Homo sapiens: one gene and its partner. The main gene of each other region encodes a partner of the protein of the gene in region 2 in a complex. Links are inferred from orthologs where the notes say so. Each region holds a gene or a part of one and is shown on either strand. Other genes may lie near its edges. The genes, in order: ESPN and MYO3B.

What was found.
Region 1: the proteins of MYO3B (region 2) and ESPN are in contact, whole or in part, in a crystal structure (PDB 5ET1), measured with the Mus musculus proteins. The link is inferred for Homo sapiens from one-to-one orthologs. Residues at the interface, in XP_017174528.1 of Mus musculus: Arg1223, Arg1224, Gln1226, Gln1227, Pro1228, Lys1229, Met1230, Leu1231, Ser1232, Ser1233, Asp1236, Thr1237, Met1238, Tyr1239, Tyr1240, Asn1241, Gln1242, Leu1243; in NP_997570.1 of Mus musculus: Leu35, Ala37, His41, Arg45, Ala67, Asn69, Ala71, His75, Asp76, Ala79, Thr80, Asp101, Ser103, Leu110, Arg113, Phe114, Thr135, Thr137, Ala139, His143, Tyr144, Ala147, Thr169, Asn171, Tyr177, Leu178, Gln181, Ala203, Asp205, Met207.

What each region holds. Positions count from the first base shown.
Region 1 is NC_000001.11:6,436,356-6,452,258, reverse strand, and holds part of ESPN (espin), read right to left. Parts: intron 15,566-15,903; exon of another isoform or gene 15,475-15,565; intron 12,006-15,474; coding exon 11,819-12,005; intron 11,634-11,818; coding exon 11,451-11,633; intron 11,326-11,450; coding exon 11,194-11,325; intron 7,779-11,193; coding exon 7,577-7,778; intron 6,596-7,576; coding exon 6,324-6,595; intron 5,955-6,323; coding exon of another isoform or gene 5,835-5,954; exon of another isoform or gene 5,211-5,834; intron 4,232-5,210; exon of another isoform or gene 4,142-4,231; intron 3,790-4,141; exon of another isoform or gene 3,698-3,789; intron 3,619-3,697; coding exon 3,168-3,618; intron 1,816-3,167; coding exon of another isoform or gene 1,789-1,815; intron 968-1,788; exon of another isoform or gene 929-967; coding exon of another isoform or gene 889-928; intron 657-888; coding exon 511-656; intron 427-510; coding exon 163-426; intron 1-162. UniProt on the Homo sapiens protein: Multifunctional actin-bundling protein. Plays a major role in regulating the organization, dimension, dynamics and signaling capacities of the actin filament-rich microvilli in the mechanosensory and chemosensory cells.
Region 2 is NC_000002.12:170,170,517-170,186,639, reverse strand, and holds the start of MYO3B (myosin-IIIb), read right to left. Parts: upstream 8,494-16,123; 5' UTR 8,353-8,493; coding exon 8,351-8,352; intron 6,511-8,350; exon of another isoform or gene 6,488-6,510; coding exon of another isoform or gene 6,459-6,487; intron 1-6,458.

The DNA of each region.
Region 1 (15,903 bases), on a different chromosome or scaffold from region 2:
CACTCCAGCCTGGGCGACAGAGCAAGACTCTGTCTCAAGAAAAGAAAAAAAAAAAAGAAAGAAAATGGGAGGTCCCGAGGTTGGGGTTGGGGGTGGCGTGGGGGATGGGCTGTGCATCCAGATGCAGACCCCAGGGCTCCCTGGGCACCCCGCCCCACCCACCTTCCGCCTCTGCTCCTCCTCCTCCTGCATCTTCAGCTGCATCTTGCGCACCATCACCTGGCGCTTCCACTCGGGGATGGGCCGGCCCTGCTCATCGTGCGTGGGGATGAGAGCCTCCACGTCCAGCTGCACTCCCGGCGCAGGAGTAGTGGGCGGCACGGGAACCAAGCTTCCATTGAGCAGCGGCTGAAACCCCGCAGCTGGCGGTGTGGGGCTCCGGACTGGTGACAGTGCAGGTGACACAGAAGGCAGCGGCGAATCGGGCTGCAGGGAGAAGCGGTGGGGCTGAGCGCCCGGTGGCCTAGGGCCAGGGAAGCCGGGTCGCAGGCTCCTGCTGGGCCCGCCTACCTGGAAGGCCGGCTGCCCGATGCCTGAGAACACTGTGGTCAGCCCCTTGCTCTGGGGCGTCGGCTTCAGGCTCTTGCCTGCCTTAATCTCAGCCAGTAGCTCCGAGTTGTCGCCCGTCGGGGACATCATGTTGAAAGACTTGGTGCCTATGCGGAGGCAGGAGATGAGGCACTGGCCAGGGTGGGGCTGCATCCCCGCCACCCCTCACCCGCCCCTCTGCAGCCCCTTTCCTAAGCCAAGATTGGATGGGTGCCCATCCTCCGGGCCAGCGGGCAGCTCTCCAGATCCCAGGTCCTGCAGGCAGGTTTCAGGGCCCCCAGAGGCGGGCCCTTGGTTCCCTGACTGTGGCAACCCCACCATCTTCCCCACCCTACTCACGGGATGGAGGGCCCCTGCCTGGAGGCCCCTGGGAGTTCATGGTGGCTCTTGGGCATATGTCCCCGCCCAGCCACTGACTGCCCAGCTCCAAAACACTACCTGGAATCAGCCACCTGACCTTTGTCCCAGGTTCCCTGGCTCAGCCCGGCTGGGGTGGAGCCTCCCTCTGGCCCTCTCCCTACATCAGCAAAGCCTCAGTGACCCTTGAACTGAGTCAATTGGGGCCTCCATGGACATAAAGTCCGGACCCCAGAGTGCCAGTACCCACCTGGTCCCCTCCCTCCCCACCACACCCACAGACAGATGCACAAGCAGACACATTGGTTGCAAGCCGGGAGCACCTTTATGGCAAAGCATGGCTCAGCTCTAGGGGCCCAGGAAAGCAGAGCCCTTACTAAGGCTACGGGAGGCACCCAGGAGGAAGGGCAGGCGGATAATATGGAAACACCCAGGGCAGAGTGTGCATTTTCCAGCTTAGCCAGAGGAGGCAAATGGAGATTTGGAGAGAGAGGTCTCTTGAGCCCCGATGAAGGGGTCAGGTCTGGGAGGGAGGAATAAAATGGGCCGACAGCTCTTGGATTCCCAGGCTGGGGATCCCAGAATGCAGTCACAGCGGGTGGGGGTGGTGGGGGAGAAGAGTAGGAGAAAGGGAAAATCGGTGTGGCTGGCTCATTTATTTAGGCAAAACCATCAGCCAGGTGCAGAATGCTTGGGTGCATATGTGGGTATGAGGGTAGGTATGAGGTGCAAGGCCCCACCCATTCTTCGAGGTTCTCTCGCCTGCCAGCCCCTGCCCCTGCCCTTTCCTCAAGTCTGGGCCCCTTCTGCCTTGCTTTTCCTGCCTCTTCCCCCCACCCCGCGCCTCAGCCTCAGCCAGGAGCCGCGCACGCAGCTACTCACTCTTCCTGTGCCTCAGGACTCTCACTTCTAGGGACCAAGAGGAGAGAAGTGACAGCGGAGTTAGGAGGGAGGGGGGGCAGGATGAGACTGGGACAGCAGGGGACAGGGAGCGGGCCAGGGAGAGCGGGCGGGGGGGAAGTGGAGAAGAGAGGAGGAGCTTTTCTGCCCATCTGACCCTGGCTCAGGCTGCTCTGGGGCCCCATGAGGGTGGTCCATCGAGTTCCTGGCTTGGCTGGTGCCCCTGAGGGCTGGGCAGGGCCACCACTGGCTCTAGCCCCTAGCAAGGGCCTCCACCTTGGCACTGGGTTGGGGTAGGGCACCCAGCCCTGGCTGTGCTGGGTGAGGGTGTCTCGGGAAGCCCAGAGTATGTTTTTCTCTGCCCTTAGCTTCAGCCCTGCTGCAGGCTGTGGAGGGAAGAAGGAGGTTCGGCAGGTGCTGGACTTGCTTACATGGGCTCTGGTCTGCAGGGGCTGGGGCTCCATAGGAACCGTAGGGGGACTAGCTCTGCTCTGCACTTCTAGTCAGGGAGATGAAGCTTTGAGGGGTGCCACTAAGCATGATCTCTGCCCTGAGTGGCTGGGTGAGGAAGACACCCCAGCCAGGCTGGGATGGGAGCACCACATCTAGGCACTCTGTCCTGGGCCTTCTAGGTGTCCTGGCAGGGGGACACTGTCCCACCCTACAGAAAAGCAGCCCAGGAATCCTGCACCAGTCTAGCTCTTAAAAAAGGTTGCCTAGGGAAGTCACCGGGGAGGGAGGGGGAAACACGGTGGGTCACAGCTTTGCCCCCATAGCCACGCCTTGGCTGGCCCAGGGCCCCTGGCAGAAACTGGCTAGGAAGAGTTCCTGGCATATCTAAGAAGACTTCAGGTCTGTGCTGCTTGGAAGGACAAGAGAAAGACGTGGAGAGAGGAAGAGAGGCTCAGGATAGACGGGCAGGGGGAAGGGTGGCTAGCTGCGGGGCCTCTCTGAAGCTGGTTCTACTTCGAGTGTCCCTCCAGTACCAGCTCATCAGAAACACCAGCACCAGCTCATGGGAAACACCAGCGCCAGAGCTGGGAGGCCCTTTCTAGCTGGTGGGAGGAGGCCCAGAGAGGGGAGGGGACTTGCCCAGGCCACACAGCTAGGGGGTGGGAGGCAGGCCCAGATTGGGGAAGGGACTTGCCCCAGGCCGTGCAGCCCGGTCGTGCTTTGGCAGGACCTCAAGCAACCCAGAGCCCTCTCTTAGGGTCAAGTACTCAATGGGGTAGGGGTGGCCGGAAGACCATGTAGAAGAGGAAGGACCCGGGCAGTGACAGCTGGGGAGGGGGCGGTGTCTAGATTTCCCTCCCCTTTCAGGGCTAGCGCCGCCCCACGCCCCTCAACCTGCCCCTACTCACTGCCGGTGGACGAGGAGGAGCGGCGCTGCCCGCAGCCAGGGCCAGCGCTCTCGAGGGGCAGAGGCGGGGCCGGCGGTGGCGAACTCGCGGCCTCCGGCAGGGGCGGCGGCGGCGGTGGGGGCGGCGGTGGCAGCTCCCTGGACGCCTTGGGGTCCGCGGCGCAGCCGTTAGGAACATGGTTCCCAGGAAGCAGCGCCGCCTGCGGGGGAGCGGAGGGGCCTTCGAGTGAGCCGCGGGCGGCAGGGCCGAGGCGCGGGCAGCCGGCGCGCGCGGGCTGGCGGGCACGCACCTCCTCGCTGTGCGCCATGCCCGGGCGTGCGGCCAGCGTCTCGCCGGGGCAGCGGCCCAGCTGCCGGTAGTAGTCCCCCGTGCTGGGCTGCTTGCTGAAGGCGCGGGGCTTGCGGCTGGAGTCCTGCCTCCGCAGCCCGTCGTGGCCGTCACAGGAGCTCAGCTGCGGGAAGACAGTGACCGGTGGGGCTCGGGCACCTGCCCGGTAGGCGCCCCCCACGCCTCCCCACCCAGCTCTTCACCTCCTGGGGACTCGCGGCCAGCGGCCGTCGAGGGGTGCAGCAGCTGACTTCCTAGACCCCCTGGTTCTCACAGTGGGCAGCGGGCGAGGGTCATGGGGGCCTCGGTGGAAGGGCAGGCTCCGCCCGCCTTACAGGGAGGGGTTCTGGGCACCGGCCAAGGGGCACAGGGGCCCCCACTGAGGCCAGAAGAGGCGGGCCCAGGGGCGGGGTGGCCCAGCCCCGACGCCAGGGGGAGCTGGCGAAGGGGCACCTCCCAGCTTAGCCCTCACTAGGCCCTCGGCCGCACTCCGCTCTCGGCTGTCAGAAGGACTGCGGGTCCCCAGGGCTCCGCGGAGCCCTGTCTTTCGGGGGTCCGGGGCCGGAGGGAGCCCCCTCCAGAGCCTGTGCTCTCGGAGGCTCCGGCTTGCCACGGACCCCGGTTGCCCGTCCGGGGGCTGCTCCTACCTGCCACGGTGCTGGTGGCCCCCGCTGTGCACCTGGCTGTGGGGGCGGCAGGACCCGACACCTGCGTTACCTGATACTTCCTCTCAGGTTACAGCCACCCGCGCACAGCCAGCCTATGGGCTCCGACGGCCTGACATCACCCGGGGCCCGCCAATCCCAGGCTGAACCCCCCCAGCCGTCGCGGATGCCACAGGGGGCGCCAACTACTTTGCCACACCTGGCCGCGGCTCTGCACCCGTCCCCGGCCAGATGTGACCCCGCCCCCTGCGCCTCTCCCTAAGCTGGGAGCTGAGCCCCCACCTTCATCCCCGCCCGAGAGGGGAGAGGGCTGACTGTGGGCAGAGGAGGCCTCTCATATTTGGCCCCCGGCTCCGGGTCGCGTCCCCACCCTTCCCCTCCTGCATCTGGAAACCATCGCCATCCACGAAAGCGACACCGACACCCGCGCTCAAGCCTCGGATTTCAGGGGCCGTAAGGCGGGGTCGGGTGACAGCGTGGCTTCCCACCCCATCGCAGCTGCCCCCAACTAGGCCCAGCTCAGTGAGGGAGAGTGAGGCGGCCGGGCCAAAGACTGAGTGACCGGGTGGGGGCTGTCCTCTGCCCCACTCTCCAGCCCATGCGTCCCTGCGGTGGCCTCAGACCCTTCACCCCGCCCGACCTGGCTCACGTTGCAGGAAATGCGACACCGCAGGATTTGTTTTCTGGGCCAGCCCGCCCGCTCCGCGCCCCCTGCAGCCCGGAGGTTCGGACGCCACGACCCTGCTCCCGCCCCCGGTCAGGCACCCGCGCGGGGGGCGCCGCGGCGACACAAAGAGCCCTTTGTGGAGCGTCCGGGCCCCGGCCCTGGCGCCTGCGGCCCAGCACGCACACGGCCGAGATGGACGCACATAGCCGGGAGGGGCGCACACAGTGGGGAGGGGCGCACACAGCCGGGAGGGGCGCACACAGCCCGGAGGGACGCACACAGCCGGGAGGGGGCTCACACAGCCAGGAGGGGACCACGCAGACCTGGCACTTGGGCTCAACGGTGGAGACGGGGCACTGGCTGGGCCACCTGTCCTGTGGATTTGGGCGGGGCCAACAGTCTGCGTTGGGAACTCAGCGATTCCAGGGCCCCCTCTGCCTCCCAGAGATGAAAGGGGAAGCCACTGTGGGAGCTTGGTCTAAGGTGGCATGAAGAGGGCAGCTACTGGAGCTGGCCTGCAGGTTCGGTGTCCCTCCCATGCCTCCCTTGCCCAGTGGCCTTGTGACCCGAGTCACCTTTTATGAATTGGCCCTGGGGTGGCTTTGCCTTGGGCTTGAGAACTGCAAGGTCCCAGGCTCCAGCAGGACCCCAGGGGGCTGCCACACCACATCTGGCCACCTGTGACCTCAGGCTGTCCCCTCACCTCTTAGACCATCCTTGCTCTGTTCCTATGGCCAGAACGCCAGTGTTCCCCAGGGCACCCTGCCCGGGATACCCGGAATTGCTCAGACCAGACCTCTGCCCCAACCCCTGCTCCAGAGCCTCAGCCAGGGGCCTGCAGGCCCCAGACATCCCTAGGCACCTCACACTCCACCTGCCCACCCTGGCCTCATCCTCTCCACACAGGCTCGCTTCCTTCCAGGGCTCCCAGCTCAGGCCTGGCCCTTTCCCCCAGGAGCTCAAGCCCTAAACTGGAACCAGCCACAGCTTCACTTCCACCCAGCCCTGCTAGTGCCTGCTCACCTTCCCCCCACCCTCCTTCCAGCCCTCACCTCCACAGCCATGCCACTGGCACCTTCCACCTGGCAGCCACCTCCCTTGGGTGACACTCTCCGACTGAGCCTGGGGCTGTGGGGGTGGGGGGGCATGCTTGGGGAGGGGCAGTCTCCATGCATTCTCTGTCAACTCCATGACAACCCGGCCACTCTGTGCAAGAGGTGGCACAGGCCCAGTTCCTGGTGAGGCACAGCTGTCTGGACCTGCGTCCTTCACCCCCCAGCTCCCATGGAGGGCAATGACCTGCTCTTACTCTCCTCCCAGTCCAGTGTCCAGCCCTGACCCCTTGTGGGACTCGCCAGGAGCTTTGACTCTTGAACATGCCATGGACCCAGGGATCCCCACCCTATGCCCACTAGTGAGGCCAGGCCTTTGGCCTCACTGGCCCCCATCAGCCCAGTCCCCCTGCTGGGAGGCAGGCAGGGGGTGAGGGCTCACTACCTCCTTCTTGAGGGCCTCTGTCTCCACGTGGCGGAGTTTGTTCTTGGTCTGCATGTAGATGTCAGCTGCCTGTGGTCCTACAGGAGGCTTGGGAGCTGGGTAGCCAGGTGGGGGTGGGGGCAGTTGGGTGCCTGGGGGCGGGGGTGGCGGGGGGAAGCTGGGTGGGGGTGGTGGGGGTGTGGGCTTCCCAATCGTGCCCCGAGGCAGGCCCAGCTCCGGGTTCAGCATGTCCATGTAGCTCTGTATGTCTGCAGCTCTAGCGCTGGAAAGCCCTGGGGAGGCAGAAGGAAGGGCCAGATTTGGGAGCATGCAGACAGGCTGTCCCCCAAGACTGAGACTCTCCACCACCTGGAAACAACTTGCCGAGGGGCAAGGTGGGCTCCGGGCACCACTTGGTACACCTGCTGTGGCCCCTGGCGGTGCTGGGCTTCCCCTCCCTGGCCCTACCCTGCCCCAGCCCAGCACTTACTGGGGGAAGACCAGGCACTCCGGTTTGGAGGGGAAGCACTGGAGGCTTTGGTGTGTCTAGAGGGCAGGGTCACCTGGAAGGGGAGGGTCTACTCCTTGGGAGTACGGATGGCCACATCCAATCTTTGCAGGGCACCCCTGCCAGGTCTGGAGGCCACCATCTGGCGGCGTGAAGCAGGCATTGCAAGTGGACGGACGCCCATGCTCAGGGCACGGTCAGGGTGTGTGTACACACAAGCCTGCAGTCTGCCGAGGCGATCGTGCATTTGTGTATGTTTGAGGGGGTACGCATTTGTGCACATGCTTCTTTGTACTGATGAATGTGTGTGCATTGCTCTGTGGACATGGTGTGTATGTGTGTGTGTGTGCGTGCATATCTGTAGTATGGAAATAGAGCACTGTGTGCTTGCTTGTGTGTAGGGTGGGTGTGTGCAGATATTCGCATGGCTCTGTGTGTTCATATCTGTATGCTGTATGTACACATGTACAAGTGTGTGCTTTTGTATGTGAGTAGCTAAGAATAATGAATGGTGGGCGACACACGTGGACTTTGTGGGTGGGGAGAGTACATGTGGATGTACATGTATGTTTGTGATAAGCACACACAAGTATGAGTGACATCTGTCTCTCACCAGAAGGGGTGTCGCCTCCCCATGTTTAAGAGCAAGTGATGAGGGTAGTGTCCGATATTGGCTGTGGCAGGGCGGCCCAAGGCCAATCCTCACAGCCCAGCAGTCTGGCTTCAGTCTGCTCTCCCTCCCCGTCTTCCTCCTGGGCACACTCACCACATGGAGGGTGCTGGCCCTTGATGCTGGAGTGGCTGGAGGAGCAGGAGTCGTAGTTGGAGAGGGTGCTGGTAGGCGAGCTGAGGTCAAAGTTCAGCGGCTGGACCGACACCGTGGTATTGGGTGAGGACATGCCTGAATCCGGCTGCTTAGCCTCCAGCTCTGCGGATGGATCCCGGGAAAGCACGCGGTGCTCCACGCTCTGAAGGGGAGGCAGGGAGGCCATGAAGACAACCATACCCCAAGATGCGTTGCTCTCCAGGCCAGGGTCCTACTCAGTCATGCCTTCGCTGTGGGATCTTGGCCAAGCCACACCGCTCTCTGGGGTCTCTTCCCCATCACTAGACGGTCTCTCAGGTTCCTCCAGGTTAAGATTCAAGCCCAGCCCCGCCAGGCAGCAGGACCCAGGTTCCTGGGAAACTCCCTCCCCTGGCTCCTCCCTGATTAGGAGGGTGGAGAGATCGACAAGGAGGGGGCCCTTGAGCTGCACCCCAAGGGGAGAAATGCCAGGAGATCGGCCTTCTCCCTCACGGATCGGCAGAGGCTCCATGGGGAGGCGCACAGCACAGGCCCATCCCTAGTTACCTGGCTGGCAAGCCGGCTCTCCTTGCTGGACCTGGGGCCTGGGGCAGACTCCCAACACCAGCCCGGCCTGTCTCCTGATGGGGCCCTCGGGGTAAGGGTGGGGCCTGGATGGCCAGCTGCAGTGATGGGCAGCCAGAACTCAGGCTGCCAGGCCTGCCATCCCCTCGCCCTGCCCGGTCTGTGCGTCTGACCACAGGCCTGTCCCCTCCCGGTGCAGACGGGGCTGTGGTGGGGGCCCTGCTTACATTGCCATGCTGCCCCTGCTGCCGGCAAGCCCGCTTGCTCCGCTGCCTCCTGCCCAGGCCTGCTCCTCCTTGCCCCATGCCCCCTCCCTGCCTAAGAAGTGTCACAGGCCCCCTGGGAGAGAGAGGCAGGCCTGGCACCAGGTAACGGCTCAGCGGCCGCGCTCATTGGCCCCGTAATTAGGGGCTCTGTGGGAGTGTTTGCCTTTTCTGGGCCAGCGTCTTCTGTGGCTTGGATCTGTCCCTGCCGCAGCTGGGCCTGCTTGGGTGAGGGAACCAGGGCACACATACTCCACCCATTCCAGGGGACCAGGCCCTGCTGCCTACCGCAGGAATCAGGGGAGCCATAGGAGGTGGCGTGGGCAGCACCCGAAGGTGCTCTTTACCTGGCCAACAGCAGTGGGTGCTGAGGGCACCAAGCCCTGACCCCTGTAGGCAGCAGATAAGAGGCTGGGCCACAGCAGGTGTACTGCACCTGGCCTGAGCCACCCAGCTCTGCAGTCTGGGACAGTGGCTTCAGACTTCCCCTCCCTGACTTACTAGCTATTTCGGGAGAGTCACCTATGCTTTTTGTGCCTAACTTTCTTTATCTGCAAATGGGGATAACAGCACTACTTGCTCTGCTGAGCTCCAGGACATGGCACCCAGTAAATGCCATATTGTCAACTTTTTTTTTTTTTTTTTAGACAGAGTTTCATTCTTGTCGCCCAGGCTGGAGTGCAGTGGCGTGGTCTTGGCTCACTGCAGCCTCCATCTCCCGGGTTCGAGCAATTCTCCTGCCTCAGCCTCCCAAGTAGTTGGAATTACAGGCGCCCGCCACCACACTCAGCTAATTTTTGTATTTTTAGTAGAGATGGGGTTTCATCATGTTGACCAGGCTGGTCTCGAACCCTGACTTCAGGTGATCCACCCGCCGCCTCAGCTTCCCAAAGTGCAGGCATGAGCCACCCCACATGGCCTCTCAACCTTTTTTTTTTTTTTTTTTTTTGAGACAGCGTCTTGCTCTGTCACCCAGGCTGGAGTGCAGTGGCGTGATCTCGGCTCACTGCAACCTCCGCCTCCCGGGTTCAAGCGATTCTCCTGCCTCAGCCTCCCAAGTAGCTGGGACAACAGGCACCCACCACCATGCCCAGCTAATTTTTATATTTTTAATAGAAACGGGGTTTCACCATGTTGGCCAGAATGGTCTCGATCTCTTGACCTTGTGATCTGCCCGCCTCAGCCTCCCAAAGTGCTAGGATTACAGGCGTGAGCCACCGTGCCCAGCCTTTTTTTTTTTTTTTTAGAAGGAGTCTTGCTCTGTCACCAGGCTGGAGTGCAGTGGCGCGATCTTGGCTTACTGCAACCTCCGTCTCCTGGGTTCAAGCGATTTTCCTGCCTCAGCCTCCCGAGTAGCTGGGACTACAGGCGTGTGCTACCATACCTGGCTAAATTTTTTTTTGTATTTTTAGTAGAGATGGGATTTCACCATGTTGGCCAGGATGGTCTCGATCTACTGACCTCGTGATCTGCCTGCCTTTGCCTCCCAAAGTGCTGGGATTACAGGCATGAGCCACTGCACCCGGCCAACTATTTTTTTAATGTACTGTGAAGAGTAACGGAGATTACACCTTTAAGGCACTCGGCAGGGTGCCTGCCTAAGTCAGAATCCAATGAATAGTGTTTGCTGTCCTATGACCGCTAGCAGCTGCATCCAGAGAGGCCCTCAGGTGCCCTGGGCTCTGGTGCCACCCCCCACGGTCCCTCAACAGAGTCACAGACACTCTTAACTGAAGGGGACCCACCATTGATGCAGAAATGCCCTTCCCAGTGTCCATCCCAGCTTATATACCCTAGTGACAGAGTGCTCACTACCTGCTGGGCCATTCATTCTCTTCCAGAGACTCTTTCGCGGGGGGAAGTTCATCCTCAGGCCCCCCTGCAGCCTCTGGCCTCTGGGCCTTGCTGTGTTCTGCAGCCCCCAGAGCCAGGACCATCCCCCTGTGCTGGGGGGGGGAGGGCAGATGGACAGACGGTGCTCAGGGCACAGACCATCTGCCTTCTTCCCTCCGGGCCTCATTGCACAGCCCCTCCATGGCCAGGCTGCCCCATGGAGTTGGTCCGCATCCTTTTCGGGTTGACTGCGAGGCCCACTCTCTTCCCTGCCTATTGCCTCATAGCAGGCATTGTACCAGATGGTGCAGAGCCCTGCACTTGGAGACATCCACAGCTGAGTTCAAGTCCCATTGGGTCACTTCATGGCTGTCTCACCATAATAACATAATTTAAAAAGAGTAGCGTGGGTTTCCAGTTATGACCCAGCCATGAAGTCAGCAAATGTATGGTGCAGGGGCTGAGAGGTGCCTCCTGGCCAGGCCATCAAGGTAGGTTCTCCACTCTAACAGTTACTGGTGATGCCATCTTGGTGCCCCGCAGACTCACTTTATCCATATGTGGAACGGGACACTTAAACACTCTTTTCTGCAGAGGGTGGCTGTGAGTTATACCCAAGCTAATGTCTATGGGTAGGTGAATGAGCCTGCCTATTCCCAGTGGGTCCTGTCTTGTGATTTCTCCAGCCTTACCCCTTGGGGTGACTCTGGTCTTCCCTGTCCTCTTTCCGTTGACCTTTGTGCCTCTACTCCCTCAGTCCCCAGTAGGCAGTGGTTCTGGGCTGAGAGGTCGTGTGGGGTAGCGGGCTTCACGTCCCTGAACCTCAGCTTCCTCCTTGGTAAAAGGGGTGACGACACCCACCACTGGGGTGGAGGGGCGAGAAGAAAGAATGCGACAGGAGCAGCTCAGGGATCGTACCAGGTTCTCCACCGTGCGCAGGTAGCGGGTGCAGTGGCTGTGGCCGTTGAAGTCCGACAGGTCGGCGGCCGTGTACCCGTCGCGGTCGCGGACGTCCAGCTCCGCGCCGTTCACTACCAGGATCTGGCAGCACTGCGGGGGCACGCAGTGAGGACCCGGCCGCGGCCGCGAGCTGGGACCCCCGCGCCCGGGCAGGGCCGTGCTGAAAGCGCGGTGCCAGCAGAGGGCGCGCGCCCCCACCCCGGGCCCGCGCTGACCTCTAGCTCCCCGTTCTCGGCGGCGTCGTGCAGCGGGGTCCCGCCCCACAGGTCAGCCGAGATCTCCCCGCCGTGCAGCAGCAGCCAGCTGAGCACCTTGGTGTGGCCGCGGCTCGCCGCGAAGTGCATGGCGGTGGCGCCGTCTTTGTCCTGCTCGGACAGGCTCACGTCGGTGCAGCTCACCTGGGCGGGACGGGCGGGGAGAGGGGGGCGGGGGCTGGGCGCCAGGCCCCTGTAGGCCCGCCCCCTGTACCTCCGTGGCCCGCCCCCGCCCCCCCGCCCCACCCCTGATGGCCCCGCTCCCTCCACTCCCCGCCCTGCCGGCTCCGCCCCGCCTCCCCTGCTCCCCGCCCGGGCCCGGAGCTCACCAACCACACGATGACTGGGCTGTGGCCCATCTGCGCCGCGGCGTGCAGCGGGGTCATGCCGTCGTGGGCGCGCGCGTGCGGGTCTGCGCCGCATTCCTGCACCAGGTACTGGGTCACCTCCAGGTGGCCCTCCTGGCACGCCAGGTACAGGGGCGTGGCACCGTTCTTGGTTTGGGCATTCACTCCCCTGCGGAGACACAGCGCCCACCGTGGGCTTTCAGCGCCTCACCCCCTCCGAGGCCTTCTTACCCGCCCCCATCCCGTCCCGGGGAGCCCTGGACGGCAGGGAGAGTGGGTGGGAAAGGGCCCTGTCACCGGCCCGCTGCTGCCCGGGGGGCTCCCCCTGGACTGAGTCCTGAGCCACCCTCCCTCAGAGGTCCCTGAGGGCGTCCCACCCAGCACTGCCCTGCCCTCAGTCCTACTTTTTTTTTTGAGAAGAAGTCTAGCTCTGTCGCCCAGGCTGGAGTGCAGTGGCTCGATCTTGGCTCACTGCAACCTCTGCCTCCCGGGTTCAAGCGATTCTTCTGCCTCAGCCTCCTGAGTAGCTGGGATTACAGGCATGTGCCACCACGCCCCGCTAATTTTTTGTATTTTTAGTAGGGACAGGGTTTCACCATGTTGACCAGGCTGGTCTCGAACTCCTGACCTCGTGATCCGCCCATCTCAGCCTCCCAAAGTGCTGGGATTACAGAGCCACCGCACCCAGGCTCAGTCCCACTTTTTAACCGAGGTCTACAAAGATGTGGTGAGCTGGCCTCTTCTCCCCTCTCACCCACTGTCACCATGAATCCCCACACCTGCTGTGTCTGACCTCTATCCCTTTCATTGTGTGCCCCCTCCATCTGGAATGTCCTTCTCCTCCCTCTTGAAGACTCAGTACCCATCCCTCCTCCATGAGGGCCACCCTGATTTATTTCCCCCTTGCTGGCCTCCGCCCCACACTGCCCAGGGCCACTTGAGCATGACCTGTCATGCTTGGTTGACCATAACTGATTTTGACCTTTGCCTCCCCCAGAAGACTGAGTTCCCAGAGGGCAGGGTGGTAAGGGTTGCCAGACAAAAGGCAGTTCACACAATTCAATCTGAATTTCTGATAAACGGATAATGCTTTAGTATTCTATATCCCAAATATTGCATGGGACATACTTATACTAAAGTACAGCTTGTTTATCTGAGATTCAAAGCTAGTCAAACGTCCTGGGTTTGGTTGTTGCTGTTTTTGTTAATCTGGCAGCCCTCAGGATGTCCACTATGTACTGAATGCTTCTGCTGTGCTAGCTCTGGGCTACGGCACTAGCAAGCAGGTTCTTCTTTTTTATTTTTATTTTTGAGACGGAGTCTTGCTCTGTCATCCAGGCTGGAATGCAATGGCGCAATCTCAGCTCACTGCAACCTCTGCCTCCTGGGTTCAAGCCATTCTCCTGCCTCAGCCTCCCAAGCAGCTGGGACTACAGGCATGTGCCACCACGCCTGGCTAATTTTTGTATTTTTAGTAGAAACCCAGTTTTGCCATCTTGGCCAGGCTAGTCTCGGACTCCTGAGCTCAAGTGATCCGCCTGTTTCAGCTTCCCAAAGTGCTGGGATTACAGGTGTGAGCCACCGCACCCGGCCATCAACTATTACTATGACCATCAACTGAGATTACACCGGTAAGGCACCTAGCAGGGGACCTGCCAGAATCAGAATTCAGTCAATGGTGCAGCTGCAGCTGAGGAGGCTCACAGGTGGGGCTGGGACTCTGTGCCATCACCCATAGTCCCACAACAGAGGCACAGACTCAGCTCTCTCCTCGGTCACACAGCTGGTAAGTGGCATTTGAACACCCATCTGTCTGTGCATGCAGGGCCTGGCCGGCAATATGGGCATGCAGGGACTGAAGAGCTGGAATGTGTCTCAGGGGCTTCTCCTAGGGCCTAGCTTTCGGCTGTCACTGTCCCTTATCCTTGCTCTCCCAGCCCAGAGGGGGGCCTTTGAGCTGTGCCACAGTCTTGCTTCTTGTCTCTTTGTCTTCCCAAACCCATCCATGAAATGGGGACAACAGTTGTCATCCTGACCTTGTGCAGAGTGCCTGAGAAGTGCTTGCAGAGCCCTGAGCACAGGCCTGGTGCCTGGCGCACAGCCATTGCTGAACTTTAGGATCCTTCCTTGTGCCTGGGAGGACCAGCCACCAGGAGGGTCTATGGCTGGCCTGGTGTGTCCAGGTGAACAGCCAGGGTGCAGTTACCACCGAAGGACACTAGGTGGAGCCACAATCTATCCCCAGACCCAGGAGAAGCTCCAGGTTGGGGGCCGCGACCTATTGGGTTCCAATTCACCTTTTGTGCTTAGGAGGCCAATTCTTCACAGGACTTCACATCCTGCCCATCTACCTCCCCCAGTGTTTCACCCCCTAGATCAACCACATGCTCCACCCCGCATTCATCCCTCGCTCACCCATCCAACTGCCCATCCGCTTGTTGCCTGCCCATCAATGGGCACCAGGCTACCCCCCTTTGCCCACCCACCCTCTTGTTCCCAACACGACTTAGCCCCTCTTCTGACCCCTGTCACGTGTGCCCTCTCCCTCCCTCTCACACACATCCTGAGACCCTCCCAGCTGGCATCTCCCTGTCCCTAAAGCCCTGGTTCTCTGTCTACTTCCCTGACTCCTGAGACCCCAAGGCTGTCTGCAGCCCCCATGGACCTCCACTCACTGATTTCTCCTCCCTCCCCACTCCCTAGACACAGGGCTGCCATTTGCTGGGGCTGATGCTGAGCCCGGCACTTCACGATGGTGCGGGGAGCAGGCACCATGCCTGGTGATCCAGAGGGGGTCCCGTCGACATAGATGAGGGAGACAGAAGACACAGCTACGTATCTATCTTCAGAAACATGCTGGCTCGTGGCTGCCAGCCTCCACACCCCAGCGCCAGCGTCACCCCCACGCACACTCACATGCTGCTGCGTCAGGAACAGGCTGTTGAATATTTCATGACTGACACTCAGCGGCCTAAATTATTCACCCCGTAACCAAGGCACAGTGAGTGCCGGGGTCTTGGGGATCAGGGGCTGGTGGGGGCCCACTGGGTTCTATCTGTAGAGGCCCACGGCGGTCTGCACAGCTGGTGGGGGGGCCAGACCTGCGGTGAGCTCTGCTCTCCCAGCACCCCCCACTTGGCAGAGATCCATGACCCAGGGGTGCCCAGCCAGCCGGAGAAGGTCTGAGAAGCTGGCACCAAGCAGGATCTGAGCAGCAGGGGGCAGTGGTACCCACAGCCTCCTGCAGGGCCGCTGGCTGGCATTCCCAGCCCAAGTTCCTGGCACGGAATGAGCCCTCAGTAAGTGCTGGAGCTCATCACCATTCTCGTTAGTATTCCACCATCTGCACTCACACGCCCCATTATGGAGTCAGAGCCTCCAGCTTGGAATACCCCAGAACATGGGACAGATATGCTGATGGGCTGAGGGGGAGGGGATCCTGGCTCAACATCCCCTTGGAATACCCCAGAACATGGGGCAGATATGCTGTTGGGCTGCGGGGGAGGGGATCCCGGCTCAACATCCCCCTCCACCTTGGCCTGAGGACAAGAAGAACAATGGGCACTCTCACAGTCACTGGGGAGTATTACAAAGATATGGATGAGCATAAGGACCAAAATGAAATTCTCATCACACACCTGGAATCCAAGCACCTTCGGAGGCCAAAGCAGGAGGACTGCCTGAGCCTAGGAGTTCGAGACCAGCCTGGGCAACATAGAGAGACCGCCATTCTCTACAAACAATACAAAAATGAGCCAGGTGTGTTGGTGCACACCTGTAGTCCCAGCCGCTCAGGAGGCTGAGGAGGTAGGATCACTTGAGTCCAGGAAGTTGAGGCTGCAGGGAACTATGATCATACCACTGTACTCCAGCCCGGGTGTCAGAGCAAGATCCTGCCTCTAAAATAAATAAATAAATAAATAAATAAATAAATAAATAAGAAAAAATTCCCATCACTGGAGAGAGGAATTAATAAAAGTAATAATAGTAAATAATAATAGTGATAGCAGCCACCATTTACTGAATGATTACTCTGTCTCAAGCACTGTGATGAGTACAACACACAC
Region 2 (16,123 bases):
TTTATGGGGCCGGTATTAGCCTGATACCAAAACCTGACAAAGGCACATCAAAAAAAGGAAACTACAGGCTAATATTCCTGATGAATGTAGAAGTAAAACTCTTCAACAAAATATTAGCAAACCAAATTCAACAATACATTAAAAAGATTATTCATCCTGACCAAGTGGGATTTATCCCAGGAATGCAAGTATGGTTCAACATATGCAAATCAATCAATGTGATACATCATATCAACAGAATGAAGGACAAAAATCATATGATCATTTCAGTTCATGCTGAAAAAGCATTTGATAAAACTCAACATCACTTCATGATAAAAACCCTAAAAAAAACTGGGTATAGAAGGAACATACCCCAATACAATAAAAGTTGCATATGACAGACCCACATACTGAATGGGGAAACATTGAAAGCCTTTCCACTAATATCTGGAATATGACAAGGATGCCCACTTTCACCACTGTTACTCAGCATAGTCCTGGAAGTCCTTGCTAAAGCAATCAGACAAGAGAGAGAAATAAAAGGCATCCAAATTGGAAAGGAAGAAGTCAAATTAGCCTTGTTTGTAGATGGTATGATCTTATATTTGGAAAAACCAAAACACTATTAAAAAACTACTAGAACTGATAAATTCAGTAAAGTTTCAGGATACAAAATCAACATACAAAAATCGGTAGCATTTCTATATTCCAATAGCAAACAACTGGAAAAAGAAATCAAGAAAGTAATCCCATTTGCAATAGCTACAAATAAAATACCTAGGAATTAACCCAAAAAAATGAAAGATCTCTACAACGAAAACTATAAAACACTGATGAAAGAAATTGAACAGGACACACATGAAAAGGGAAAGATATTCTATGTTCATAGTTTGAAAGAAGCAATATTGTTAAAACGTCCATACTACCCAAAGCAATCTACAGATTCAATGCATTCCCTATCAAAATACCAATGTCATTCCTCACATAAATAGAAAAAACATCATAAAATGTATATGGAGCCACAAAAGACCCAGAATAGCCAAAGCTATCCTGAGCAAAGCAAACAAAACTAGAAGAATCACTTTACCTAACTTCAAATTATACTACAGAGCTATAGTAACCAAAACAGCATGGCACTGGCATAAAAACAGTTATATAGACCAATAGGACAGAATAGAGAACACAGAAACAAATCAATGCATTCACAGTGAACTCTTATTTGACAAAGCTGCCACAAACATACATTGAGGAAAGGACAGGCTCCTCAATAAATGGTGCTGGGAAAATTGGTTATCCATATGCAAATGAATGAAATAAAATCTAAATGGATTAAAGACTTAAGTCTAAGACCTCAAACTATGAAACTACTCAAAGAAAACAATGGAGAAACTCTCCAGGACGTTGGTCTGGGCAATGATTTCTTGAGTGATACCCTACAGGCACAGGCAGCCACAGCAAACATGGACAAATGGGATTACATCAAGTTTAAAACTTCTGAACAGCAAAGGAAACAATAAACAAAGTGAGGAGACAACCCACAGAATGAGAGAAAATATTTGCAAACTATCCATCTGACAAGTTATTAATAATGAGAATATATAAGGAGATCAAACAACTCTATAAGAAAAATCTAATAATCTGATTTTAAAATGAACAAATGACCTAAACAGATATTTCTCAAAAATGGCAAATAGGTTTATGAAAAGGTGCTCAAAATCAATAATCAGAGAAATGTAAATCAAAATTACAATCAGATATCATCTCACCCCAGTTAAAATGGCTTTTAACCAAAAAAACTAAGCAATAACAAATGGCTGGTGAGAATGTGGAGAAAAGTAGACTCTTGTACACTGTTGGTGGGAATATAAATTAACACAATCACTATGGAGAACAGTATGGAGGTTCTTCAAAAAACTAAAAATAAAACTACCATATGATTCAGCAATCCCACTGCTAGGTACACCCCAAAGGAAATGTTATCAGTATATTGAAGAACTATCTGCACTCCCATGTTTATTGTAGCACTATTCACAATAGCCAAGATTTGCAAGCAACCTAAGTGTTCATCAGCAGATAAATGGAAAAATAAAATCAGGTTTATATATACAATGGAATATTATTCAGCCATAAAAAGAATGAGATCCTGTCATTTGCAACAACATGGATGAAACTGGAGGTAATTATGTTAGGTGAAATAAGCCAGGCACAAAAAGACAAACTTTGCATGTTCTCACTTACTTGTGAAAGCTAAATATTAAAACAATTGAACTCATGGAGACAGAGTAGAAGGATAGTTACCAGAGGCTGGGAAGGGTAGTGGTGATGGGGAGTAGGGATGGTTAATGGGTACAAAAAAATAGAATGAATATGATCTAGTATTTGATAGCACAAAGGGATGACTACAATCAACACTAATTTATTGTAAATTTAAAAATAACTAAAAGTATAATTAGATTGTAATACAAAGAAATGATAAATACTTGAGGTGATGGATACCCCATTTAACCTGATGTGATTCTTATGCATTATATGCCTGTATCAAAATCTCATGTACCCCAGAAATATATACATCTATTATGTACCCACAAAAACTAAAAATTAAAAATAAACAAACATAAAACCACAGAAAAAAAATCAGCTATTAGAATTTAGCAAAGATAATGCAACATTAGGGAATATATTACTATGATTTTCCCATTAATATATCAAAGTATGAAACACCATTAAAAATGGAAATCCAAAATGAATCTGGTAAGTTTTAATATCTAATTTTTAGAACATTAAAAAATTCAAATGGGTTAATTCCTTTCTAGCATTTAAACAGCACAGAAACATATCTCTCAAACCAAAAGTCAACATCTTAGTTAATAATGGATTTCTACAACCATTGCTAATAAAAATCAAGAAAAAAGACAAGTATCTCTCACAAACACTATAAAATTTTGCATTGTTTTTGAAGTATTAGCCACTGTGATTAGACAAAAAAACATAGAAATAAACACTGGGAAGATGGTGAATATAAAATAAATAGTGGAATGATTTATTCCTGGAAAATCAAAGTTTAACAATGAAAAAAATTAAGTTGATTCATTGAGGAGCTGAGTATAAAATTAGCATCTAGAAATCAAGCAATTTCAAAATATATTTTTCTATATGTTAAAAGTAATCAGCCAGAAAGAAAATAGCATTTTAATAGGAATTAAAGAGAGTAAAATGCCCAAAGCTAAACCTAACGAGAACAGAGCAGAATGTATAAAAGTAAAATCTTAAAATCAATGGATTAAATGAAAAGAGACCAAAAAAATGCAAAACCATATACCTTATGCTTGGATAGAAAACCTTACTGTGAAGATGTCAATTCTTCCTAAATTTAGTCTGAAAGTAAATAATTGTTTTTTTTTGAGACAGAGTCTTGCTCTGTGGCCCAGGCTGGAGTGCAATGGTGTGATCTCAGCTCACTGCAACCTCTGCCTCCCAGGTTCAAGCAATTTTCTTGCCTGAGCCTCCCAAGTAACTGGGATTACAGGTGCATGCCACCACGCCCAGCTAATTTTTTTGTATTTTAGTAGAGACGGGGTTTCACAGTGTTGCCCAGGCTGGTCTTGAACTCCTGAGCTCAGGCAATCCACCCGCCTTGGCCTCCCAAAGTCCTAGATTACAGGCATGAGCCACAGCGCCCAGCCGCTTTGTTTTTTTTTAAGAATTTGACAAAATGATATTAAACTTCATTAGAAAATTAAACACATGAGGGCTGGTCACAGTGGCTCACACCTGTAATCCCAGCACTTTGGGAGGCCAAGGCAGACAGATCACTTGAGGTCAGGAGTTTGACCAGCCAGGCCAACATGGTGAAACCTCGTCTCTACTAAAAACAGAAAACTTAGCCGGGTGTGGTGCAGGTGCCTGTAATCCCAGCTACTCAGGAGGCTGAGGCAGGAGAATAACATAAACCTGGGAGGCGTAGGTTGCAGACAGCTGAGATCACGCCACTGCACTCCACCTTGGGCAATGGAGTGAAACTCAGTCTCAAAAAAAAAAAAAAAGAAACAGAAAAAGAAAAACACATAACATGAAAATTTTAAAAAAGAATAATTAGTGAACATAATTTGACCAGACACTAAAACATGTTATACTGCTAGAGTAATTAAAACATTATGCCACAGGGGTAGAAATAAGTAGTCAGATCGTTAGACTAGAAACCAAAAGTAGACTCAAATACACAAAGAAATAGGGTTTATGATAAAAATCACATTACAAATCAATAGGCAAAAGATGGACTAAATAATACTGTTCAATAAATTATGCTGGCTTAACTTGCTGGCTGTTCAGAAAAAAAGTTAAGCCAGATTGCTACCTCATTCCTTTCTCCAAAATAGAGTATGGTGGCTCAAAATTTTTTAAAAAAATATAGCTAAATACATTATAGTCTTGGTGTAGGCAAGAAATATTTTCAAGTAGAATAGAAAACTCACAAGCCCTAAGAAAAAAATTGATAAACATAATTGCATACAAGTAAAAAGGTCTCTACAACCAAAAGAATTGTTGTAAGTACTAACATTTTTCCAAAAAATAAATAGAAAAGAAGGTTTGTATCAGGAGCTAATTTTCTATCAAGAGTATATACAATAAAAAAGAAAAAGACTCAAAAAATTTAAATGTATAAAAGATGCTAAATCTCACTAGTAAATTTTAAACGGCAAATCAAACTAATGAGATACCATTTGTCTCCTATCACACTGTCAAGATTTTTAGAAGTTTGATAATAGTGTTAAGAGAAATAAGCACTCTGAGACAACATGAGCGAAAGCGTAAACAATCTTTGTGAGGAATTATTAGTCAAAATCTACCAAATGCCCATTCCCTTTGTCTCTGTAATTCTACTGGTAGGCATTTACTTTACATATATAATCAAAAAAAGCACACTTAGATTTATATTAACAGAACATAAAAGAAAAACCATCATCTCGATCGATGCAGAAAAAGCATTCACAAAAAATTCAACATTTATTCAAAATTTAAAAACAACAACAAAAATCTCTCAACAGACTAGAAAGTGAAAGGAACTTCTTCATCTGATACAGGAATCTAGGAAAAACCTGAAGTTAACACCACACTTAATGGTGAAAAACCGAATGCTTTCACCTTAAGATCAGAAGCCAAGGATGTCTGCTCTCATCATTTATATTGAATACTGTGGTGAAGCCAGAATAATAAGTCAAGAAAAAGAAAATTTAAAAATCCAGATTAGAAGGGAAGAAGTAAAATGGGCTTAATTTGAAGATTACATGATTATCTATTTAAAAAACTGATGGAATTTATAAAAACATTACTAGAACTAATTAGTGAGTTTATCAGAATTACAGGATACAAACAAGGTCAATATTTTAAATTCAATTATATTTCTACATACTAGAAAGGAAAACTTTTCAACAGTGCTAAAACAATTGTAGAGCAATATGCAAAAAGAAAAAAAGAATCTTTATCCTTACACCACATATAAAAATTAACTTTAATCATTAAACAGATGTAAGAGCTAAAACTCTATTAAACTTGAAGTAGATAGACATACAAGATTGTTCACTATAGTATTATTTTCAGTAGAAAACCAGATACAACCTAGAGGCCCATCATCATGGAGAGATTATCTAATAAATCATAATAGTTACATAAAATTAAATACAATGTAGCCACAGGTAACCACCAAAAAGAAAAAAGGTAAATTTTCTGCCAATTAATATGGAAAGAATGCCAAATATACAATTAAGATTTGTTTTAAAAGTGTTGAATAGTGTATAGAGAGGACAATTTTTGTGTAAATACAAAGAATATTTGCATTTCTAGTCATTTTATGTGTATATTTGTGTGTATGTCTCTATGTATGTGTATATCCTTATATACATTTTTCCAGAAGGCTACACAGGAAACTCTTAAACTTTAGGGAGAGGTGGTAAAAATCAGAGAGTTTGGAAAAGAGAGAAATTTATATGCTTTTTAAAATTATTACACATTTTTAGTCATGTTTTTTGCTAGTGCATATGTTATTCTACTTTTTAAAATAAATATTTTTTAAAAAAACATATAAGAGATCTCTACAGAGGAGACTATTATGACCCAAATGTGTGCTGAAGTCAGAGGATAGCAGAAACCATATGAAACAGAGGCTCATCCTGAGAAGAAAAAGAAAACAGAGAAATAAGAAACTGAAAGGACCATGCTTGAGAGAGTGAGACAAAGAGGATTAGTGAGTGGGTTCACTGTGAATTCTACATCTTGGCCCTCTGAGGCCTGCTAAGCTTTGCTGTCTGTCCTTGTAACCCATGAAATTTCCTACTGCATTCTTCCAAGCAGCCCCTCTTTTCATGAGCTGATTTGAGTTTCTCGTGAGCTAGTTTTAGTTCCTTAACAACCCCAAATTGGTCTAGTCTGATCCCTTGTTGAATACCCTGAATTAGTCCCTAACGGAGGTACAGCCTTACCTTGTTGAAAGTAAAGCACTCTGCAGCATGCACCCTGTGAATGTCTGCAGTTAGTCAAGCCTAGCGAGCATGATTTAAATAGAAACTTGCCCAGCAACATTTTATACTCATTAGAAAATTCATGATGAAGATTTCCATTGCTCAGTATGCTATTCAGAATATTTTTTCTAGATGTTATAGTATGGTATATATGAATCACAAATCATAGAATGCTTTCAAATCTAGAGAATAGATTTTAGAAAGAAGAAATCGGAAACCTGAACTGTGAAATGTCAGAGGAAATCTGTACAAATATTAAATATAACACCCAGAGATACACAGAATAAGGAAACACATACCATACAAGCGTGAGTAAATTAGAGAATAATTCCAAACCAATACATAAGCAAGTGCATAATAGTTGTGTTAGTCCATTTTCTGCTGCTGTAACAGAATACCACAGACTGCATCATTTATAAACAATAGAAGTTTATTTGGCTCATGGTTCTGGAGGCTGGGAAGTCCAAGATCAAGGGGCCACATCTGGTGAGGGCCTTCTTGCTGCATCATAACATGGTGGAAGGTCTCACATAGTGAGACAGGGCAAGAGAGTGAGAGCTCAAGAGAGAGAAAAAGGAGACTGAACCTATCCTTTTACTAGGAGCCGTCTCCCACAATAACAGCATTAATCCATTCATAAGGGCAGAGCCCTCATGACCTAGTCACCTCTTAAAGGTCCCATTTCTTCTCACAATGGCAATTAAATTTCAACATGATCTTTGGAGGGGACATTCAAACCATAACCATGGTAAAGACGTAAGAGTAGGAACTGGCTTCTTCACAAACCACCTATCTGGATGCTGCTAGATAGGGCCTGTTCAAGTATAGCTCAAATGTCTTCTCTTCTAGGAGGCCTTTCCTAATTTTCCCACTAGAACTGACCTTTATGGTTCCACTGATTATGTACTCTTTTCCTTTCTTTAAATTTTATTTTATTTTAAGTTCCAGGTTACATGTGCAGGACGTGCAGGTTTGTTACACAGATAAACATGTGCTATGGTGGGTTGGCTGCACCTATTAAGCCCCCCATGCATTAGCTATTTATCCTGATGCTCCAGGGGAGACACTCAGGACTGGCATTTGACAGAGCTTGGTAGAGGAATCCAATGATCTCTAGGTTGATCTCTAAGTTCCATCTCTAATGTTCTATGGATTTTAAACCTTGAATATACAAAATTACTGAGAGGAAGAAAAGAATCATGGCATAATGGAATTTATCTACTATTGTTTACATTGTCATGTTACCAAATTAACAAATCTGTCATGATATTGCAGTCACTAAGGAACAATACATACCCACAGCTCTTACAAATGATTAACTAAATGATCAGATTTTTCATTTCCCCACCAAAGCATGAGGAAATTTATCTTAGCTTTAGCTGCCTGAAACCTCTCTTGGGTGAAAAACATTAAAAACATCTGCAAATTACTGATGACTAATGCCCTTCAATTTGGCCTCAAGCTGAGAAATTCTGTGCAGAAATAAAGTGGTTTATAATCCCACAGGTCCATTCTATTATAAACTGCAGGTGGCAAATCAAGTGACTATGAACTATGCTGTGTGTATGTGTGTGTGTGTGTGTGTGTGTGTGTGGTGTGTGTCTGTGTAAAAAGCAATACTCAAGAGGGTGTTTATCCTACTCCTTCAAGAGAAATTTAACCACCCAGACAAAAGGCAAATGCTAACTGAGAGGACCCAGGAATCTGGGTGATGTCAGACAGAGGCCCAAAGCCAGAGTGGCTGTCATCCCCCTCCACTGCCCACCAGCCAGGGCAGCTGCATCTGCCCTTTGCAGAAAAACAATCTAAAGCAAGCACAGAAGAAAGCTGGAAGGAAAATAACTGCAACTCACATCGATGACCTATTTTCTGAATCCGGCTTATGAGAGATTGGATTCTCATTCCTCCAAAAACCAGCAGAACACTTCAGGCCCAGAAAATGGTGTCTTTGATGACTAGAATGTATGACACATCATTACCAAAGGACTTTCGATCTAGGTTCCAAGAGGTGTTAGCCTCAGATGACTATTGTGGGAGGAGCTGATAAATCCACCAAATCCTTGGTGACTTTGCTTCACTATTAGGCAAGATTAAGATGATGCTAATTGGTAGTGAGCCTGATCTATTTAGTGTCTCCTACCAGGACACAGAGCAGAATCAAAACCATTCTCACAGATCCTGTTTGCATGTCATTTAACAGTTCCAATGTGATATTCCCCCAACCTTTTAAAGTTCCTTCATTCCAGATTAAATTCCTTCATTCCAAATGCTGCACAATCAAAACTAATCATCTTTTTGTGAGCAAAGGGCATAATCAAAGCATGTAGTCAGGGTCACTTTTCTGAACTGCAGATAAACCCAGGGGAAACACCATGAGTTTCTGATCTGAATTACCAAGCAATGAAACAGTGACTATTCAACAGTGACTATTCATTCAGTAGCATGCCCTGGGCTATATACAGAACAGTAGGTTAAGAGGAGGCAGGGGGTGGGGGGGTGGTGCTGGGCATGGTGGATCACGCCTGTAATCCCAGTACTTTGGGAGGCCAAGGCTCGTGGATCACCTGAGGTCAGGAGTTCGAGACCAGCCTGGCCAACATGGGGAAACCCCATCTCTACTAAAAATACAAAAATTAGCAGGGTATGGTGGTGTGCGCCTGTAATCCCAGCTACCAGGGATGCTGAGGCAGGAGAATTGTTTGAACCTGGGAAACGGAGGTTGCAGTGAGTAGAGATTCTGCCACTGCACTCCAGGCTGGGCAACAAAGTAAGACTCCATCTCAAAAAAAAAAAAAAAAAAAAAAAAGGGAGAGAGGGGAAGTGAGAAACAGGAGGGTAGGGTCCCCAGAAAGCTTCTTTTCTGGCCAGCTAACATGACACATAGGCCCATGTGAAATAGTTGAAGACTGTGCAATAACACTGGATAAGCTATATCCATCAATTCTGAGGAGGAGTCAGTTCAACCCAGGACCAAGACTTGAGTGGGAATGCTTCCTGGAGCAGATAAATCTAGGTACAGTTTTGAATGAAGAAGTGAAAAGGATTAGTGTAGATGAGGCAGGAGAGAAACCCAGAGCCAAGAAACAGCACACAGAGAATGCAAATATGAAGAAGGTGATTTAAAGGACAGCGATCTTACTCCCGCTAGTCAATAATGGCCTTTGTGTTTCCATTTACTGTCATAAGAATCTTAAGAATGGGGATAATGTGTTCTATCTTCCTATATTTCCTACAGTATTTGCACATAATAATTGCTCATATTATAGCTAGTAGAATCATGGATTCCTACAGTTGGACTGAACTTATCATCCCATCTGCTTGCAGAATAAATTAATAAATAAATGAACAGGTTATTAAAATTAACAGGTTGTTAAAAAGATCAGCCTGGTTCCAGTAGAAGAATTATAAAAATAATCAAGAGATGAAGTTGAATTTGTATACAAGAGTCAGTTGAAGGCAGAGCTTTCAGGCAGCCTGGGGGGCTGGAATTTTTCCTCAAAGGTGAGAGGGTGCCACACCAGGCTTTTAAACAGTAGAGTAACATAGGAAATTTTCTTTGAGAAAGAGTGTCTTGGCAGATTTTTGCAGGAAAAGGCAAATCAGAAGGCCAGCAGGATTCCATTGCAACAAGGAGTTAAAGGCTATACAGTCTGGAAGGTGACCGACAGCCTGCCCAGGCCCAAGGGAAAAAAAATACCAGATGCCCCAGCAGAGGAGGACTGGCTAGACTGTCTTCACCAGGGATTTGCCCGAGGCCCTTTCAGCCACTGGGCCCCAGTAATTTATCCTAATTTCCTTCCCCACAGCCCCGCCTCTCCACCTCAACCCTGATAGTACTTATTAGCTCAAAATGGACCATCTGAAGGAAGGGACAACCTCTTGCGAACGAACCGAGGGCCTGGTCTGCTCCAAATAAGTGTTTCCTCTAAGAAAGAAATTATAATGCATTCCTAGTGTGAGTGCAGCAGCAATAGCCTGACAGCCATTTGCATAATTTCTCTTCTGTAACAGACTTCAAAAATAACAATAGGCGAACTAGATAGAATCTATTAATTTTAAATTTGCTTGAGCTGCTATCTTTAATGAAGCTAAAGTACCATGAAGATTTTAAATCTATTAATTATGTGGTGTATTATTTGTTCTCTCCAATGAGACATTTTGGGGAATGGACATTTAATTTGTGTTGCTATAGAATCACCACCTTATTCTGGGATGTCCACTTGGTTTGAATGTACTGATAAGGTTGGAAGGTAGCGTGTTTAGAAAGTTCATCCAAGAGTAGCAGAAAAATGCTAATTAATGTCAAGAATAAAATATACGCACACACATCAAGTCAGGAATGACTCAGGAACGCAGAAGTGACCAGCCTGGGCACCATAGCAAAACTCTGTCTCTACAAAAAATAAATAAATTAGCAGGGCATGTTGGCACATGCCTGTAGTCCCAGCTACTTGGGAGGCTGAGGTGGGAGGATCATTTGGGCCCTGGAGTTCAAGTCTGCAGTGAGCTATGATCACACCACTGCACTCTCACCTGGGGGACAAAGTGAGACCCCACCTCAACAATAAAAATGTAAGAACCCGGAAGCAAAAGAATCTCATAGATGACTTTCGCAAGTGCTAAAACCACTACACAGCAACAGGAGGACAGGAACCATGCCTATCAGGTCCACCATTATATCTCCCATGCCTAACATAGGGCCTGGCATGTGGCTATATAATGTTGAAAGAAATGACCTACTGGATGGATGAATGAATGGGATTTCTTTACATAACAAAGGCAATTAAAATACCTAAGAAATATATGCATAAGATTTATTTTTCCAAAGAACTAAAAGAGCAATAATTTCATGATCATTTTCATTCATAAGCATACATGCCCACATGTGTGCACGGGCAAACACGCACACCCTTCAAGTAAAAACACCTTAAGAAGGAACTACATTGAAAAGAAAGGACTTTAAGTCTTAAATTATTTATTATAGCAGAAACATTTCAAACTAGCAAAGCATTTAATAACACTGTAAAATGAATTACCACAAGTAAACCTCTTAGTTTTCTTCATCCATTTATGGAGTGCCAGACACTACACTTGATGGCTGACAAATTGCAAAGAAGGAAAAAAAGAAAATACCTAACTTTTGAGTGTCTTCTGGATAATTTTTCCAAAGAACATCCTACTAAGTTATACTCTAAACAGGCCAGACGCGGTGGCTCATGCCTGTAATCCCAGCACTTTGGGAGGCCCAGGTGAGTGAATCGCCTAAGGTCAGGAGTTGGAGACCAGCCTGACCAATATGGTGAAACCCCATCTCTACTAAAAATACAAAAATTAGCTGGGCGTGGTGGCGGGCGCCTGTAAGCCCAGCTACTCAGGAGGCAGAGGCAGGAGAATCGCTTGAACACAGAAGGTAGAGGTTGCAGTGAGCTGAGATGGTGCCCACTGCACTCCAACCTGGGTGACAGAGCAGGACTCCGTCTCAAAAAAAAAAAAAAAAAAAAAGTTTTACTCTAAACAGATGAATTTTTAGCAGCACCAAATAATCCATTTTCTGCTCCATTTTAATATCCACATTTTCATTTCATGGGTTTTATCCCTCAATTCCAAATGACATTCTAAGTCAAATAAGAACTTAACCAAAGTCATCAGCTAATACTTAAAAAACAAATAAATCCTAATGGTAAAAGGAGAATCTCTGGGTATTAAGTCTGCCCTGAAAAACAGGGCAAACAATGTGTCCAGTTTCAGATTTTAAAAATTTGTGGATCTGGAGTTCGCCTGCTTTATCACACACACACACTGGGCACACACAGAGATCACCTGTGTGTGATCTGCTTTATCACACACACACACACACACACACACACACACACGGTACACACAGAGATCCCTGGGGATTGTTCCTGCACTTCCATACTTCTCTCTCCATAAAGCTCAATCTTCCTTCATCCTGAATACGGTGAAACTACTATGATCTTCCATACTACTTTCCTAATCATATTTTGGAAAATGTCATGTGGAAATCTTTTTGGTATTAGTATTTTCAAATCAATCCTTCCAACATACCCTGTAATCAAAGCACAGTGTGATTCATTCTGTCAACATCCAGTGGCTTTGGGAGGCCAAGGTGGGAGGATTGCTTGAGCCCAGGAGTTCAAGACCAGCCTGGGCAATATAGTGAGAACCCATCTCTACAAAACTAAAAGATTAAAAAAATTATCCAGGCATGATGGTGTGCAACTGTAGTCCCAGCGACTTGGGAGGCTGAAGTGGAAGGATGGCTTGAGTCCAGGAGTTCGAGCATGCAGTGAGCTATGATCTTGCCACTGCACTCCAGCCTGGACAACAGAGTGAGATACTGTTTCTACAAAAAACAAACAAAAACATTCCATGGTGCCTATGGTGTGGCAGGTCCTGGTGACATAAAGTAGCCTCCTTATCCCTATGGGGCTCAGAGCATGAGTGTTACAGAAGGGAAGTGCAAGGTGCTATAGGAGCCCATGACAAAGGAAATCAGGCCTCTGAGGTGATTCTCCAACTTGGTTGCACATTGGAATCACCTGAAGAGATTTACAAATATGGATTCCTGGTCCCACCTCTCCCTGGAAATTCTGGAGTATGGCTCTGAGCACCAGCAGTTTTTAAGCTTCCCAAAGAGGCAAAAAAGTTTGTGAATCATTGCTCTAGGGGGGTGGTTCTCGAACTTTTGTATTCATCAGAATCTTCTGGAGGGCTTGGTAAAACAGACTGCTGGACTCCACATCCAGAGTTTCTGACCCTGGTGGTGGAGAAGAGCCACAGAATATGCATCTCTAACAAGTTCCCAGGTGATGCTGGACCACCCTTTGAGAAACACTGCTTCAGAAAGCCAGCTGAGGAAGTGAGCTGAAGGGACAGGGGACGGGGGAATGTTTTCGGCAGAGGGAAGCACCGTGTGAAGGCCCAAAGTGGAGATAGCACCGCGGCAAGCAAATATTCCTGGAACCAAGAGATCTGAGGCATGGCCAGAGGTTAGGGAGCAAGGAGGATCATGCAGGGTAAGGCCAGTGATAGGTGGACACAAATCCTGGTCCTGCCATCTATGATTATGACTGAGAAAAAAAATGACTCCACAAAGCAAAAGAGGCTGCTCCTCTTCACAAGAATTGGCCACAGTAGTATTGTCCAATCAGTAGGGTTCTTAACTCTCAGATTATGAAAAATCCAGGCTGGCTTATTATTAAAAAGTAATAACACTCTTTGCAGGGTTAACATTTTATAGCTTTCATGACACTTTTGCAAGTGTTATCTCATCCAATTCTTAAAGAAATCCTGGAATGCAAGAAGGTCTGGCGCTCCTGCCTTCATTTTGCCAGGTCTAGAACCCCATTATCAGACTCCTGTTCTGGTCATCTTCTACTATAGCTCGTTACCCTCCAGCGTTTACTTCTACCCACAAATGGAAAAGTCCAGTCCTCTAGAAAATTCTTGTCCAAGTGCTGAGAAAAATATAGGAGAAACCAGCTCTCCACATAGGTGGTAACATACACACCTGCCCATAGCATTTACGCATGTGTCACCAGAGACTGTTCCAGAAGGCCCTGGCTATGTTTAGACAACTATTTGACTCTCCAGAAATTCAATCCAAAAGCCAGGCATGGTGGCTTATGCCTGTAATCCCAGTACCTTGGGAGGCCAAGAGAGGAGGATTGCTTAATGTCAGGAGTTCAAGACCAGCCTAAGCAACATAGGGAGAACTACCCTGCCAATCTCTACAAATTTAAAAATTAGCTCATGTGGTGGCATATGCTTGTAGTCCCAGATACTCAGGAGGCTAAAGCGGGAGAATCTCTTGAACCCAGAAGGCTGTAGTGAGCTATGATCTCACCACTGCACTCCAGCCTGGATGACAGGGAGACCCTGTCTCAAAAAAAAAAAAAAAAAAATTCAGTCAGAGTGTAAAGTTGATTTGGAAGAGAACTCAGATGTTTGTTTTCACATTCTTAGACACTAGTCCTGAAATTTGGGTAGCTGCCATGAGGGGGAAGTAATGTCTGGGTTTGGTTCTACCGTAAGCCAACAGGCTTGGCAAACTATGGATAACTTAGAGACCATACAAGTATAATAAACAATTCAGGAATTTTTTTTTCTGTCAAAATTAACACTCTTCAGAAAATATTGGCTACTATTTTAATTTTTACATTCTTTTTAAATTCAAGAATGTGTTGTGTCTTTTTCTGTGATTATAAAGTAGTACATGTTTGTAGGTGAGATGTTGGAAAATACAGGATACAAATCAAATAAAATCACCCCTAATCCTACCCAAAAACTAATCACTTTCAACATTTTGTTGTCTTTCCTTCAGACTTAAAAAAAAAATGCATGTGGGTAGGTGCAAGAGTGTCTATGGGTGGGTGTGCATTTTTTTTTAACCAGTGTTGACTACCTATTGTTTGATATTTGGTATTTTTAAAAATATTACATCATTTTTTAGTAGGTTTTAACATCATTTAACTATAATCTTGATTCTTAAAAGGAGATATCTCCACTCTCAGGATATCAGAATCACCAAGGAGGCATTTTAAAAATTATACCTTGCTTCCGAAGCTACAATCCTCCTCCACCCACCCTCACATTAAGATTTCTTGGTGGGCTGGGGCTTGTACAGACATATGAGAACTGCTAGTCTGCAAGAGGTATTACTGACCATTCCTCTTTCCCTTACACGGGCACACCAAATTAGTTAACTGATGCCCCATAAGCATTTTGTTGTTTCCAATTTTTCCTTATTTATGAGCTACTGCAATCAACATCTTAGCATTCATATATACATACGTAATGGTTTTAAGTTAAAGTCCTGGGTATAGACTTGCTAGACAAAAGGATTTAAATATTTTTAAGGCTTATGAATAACTTTTGGGGAAAGATGTAACCTAGACTAGAGAATGATCAAAATATATAAAAACTATTGACTATATTAAGAATATTTCTTATAATGAACGAATGGTTTTCAATCACTGGTTCTCCTAGGTAAAAGACAACCAAGACCTTTCTCTTTCTTACTTAGATGTCAAACATCCAGGTTCCAGGCACATGCAGTCCCCAAGGAAACTCTCCCATCAATCTGCATTGCAGCTTCAGAGACGCTATGCTATGCTGGCTCAGGAAACCAATTAATTAGCCTTCTTAATTTTCCTAAGTACCTCTGGCACTCTCTAACTGCCTATCCAGTCCCTTCAAGGGGAAGCCTCCAGCTTCCTTTTCTTTCTGAGACAGGATAGAAAGGCTAAACATGACGATATGCAACATGACGATATGCACGTCTGCACACCCAGGCCCACACCTGTTACTTTTCAACTGGGAAAGGTTCCCTTGGCAACCATCTGCACCACTGCCCCAACAACTCCTGCTCAGTAAGCCCTGATATTAGCAGGAATAAGACTTCTTTATCAGGATCCCTGTTTTACTAATCCCCCCCGACCCTGGACTATTTCTCCATGCAGGCAGGGATGGTGGCTGTCTATTTACCATCCACTGCTGATCTCCTAGTTCTTGACAATAGTTTTCAAAACATGTTTGCTAGATGAATAGATAAGATTTAGCAACCTCCCTTTTATATGCAAGACTTGTGAAATTCATAAGCACTT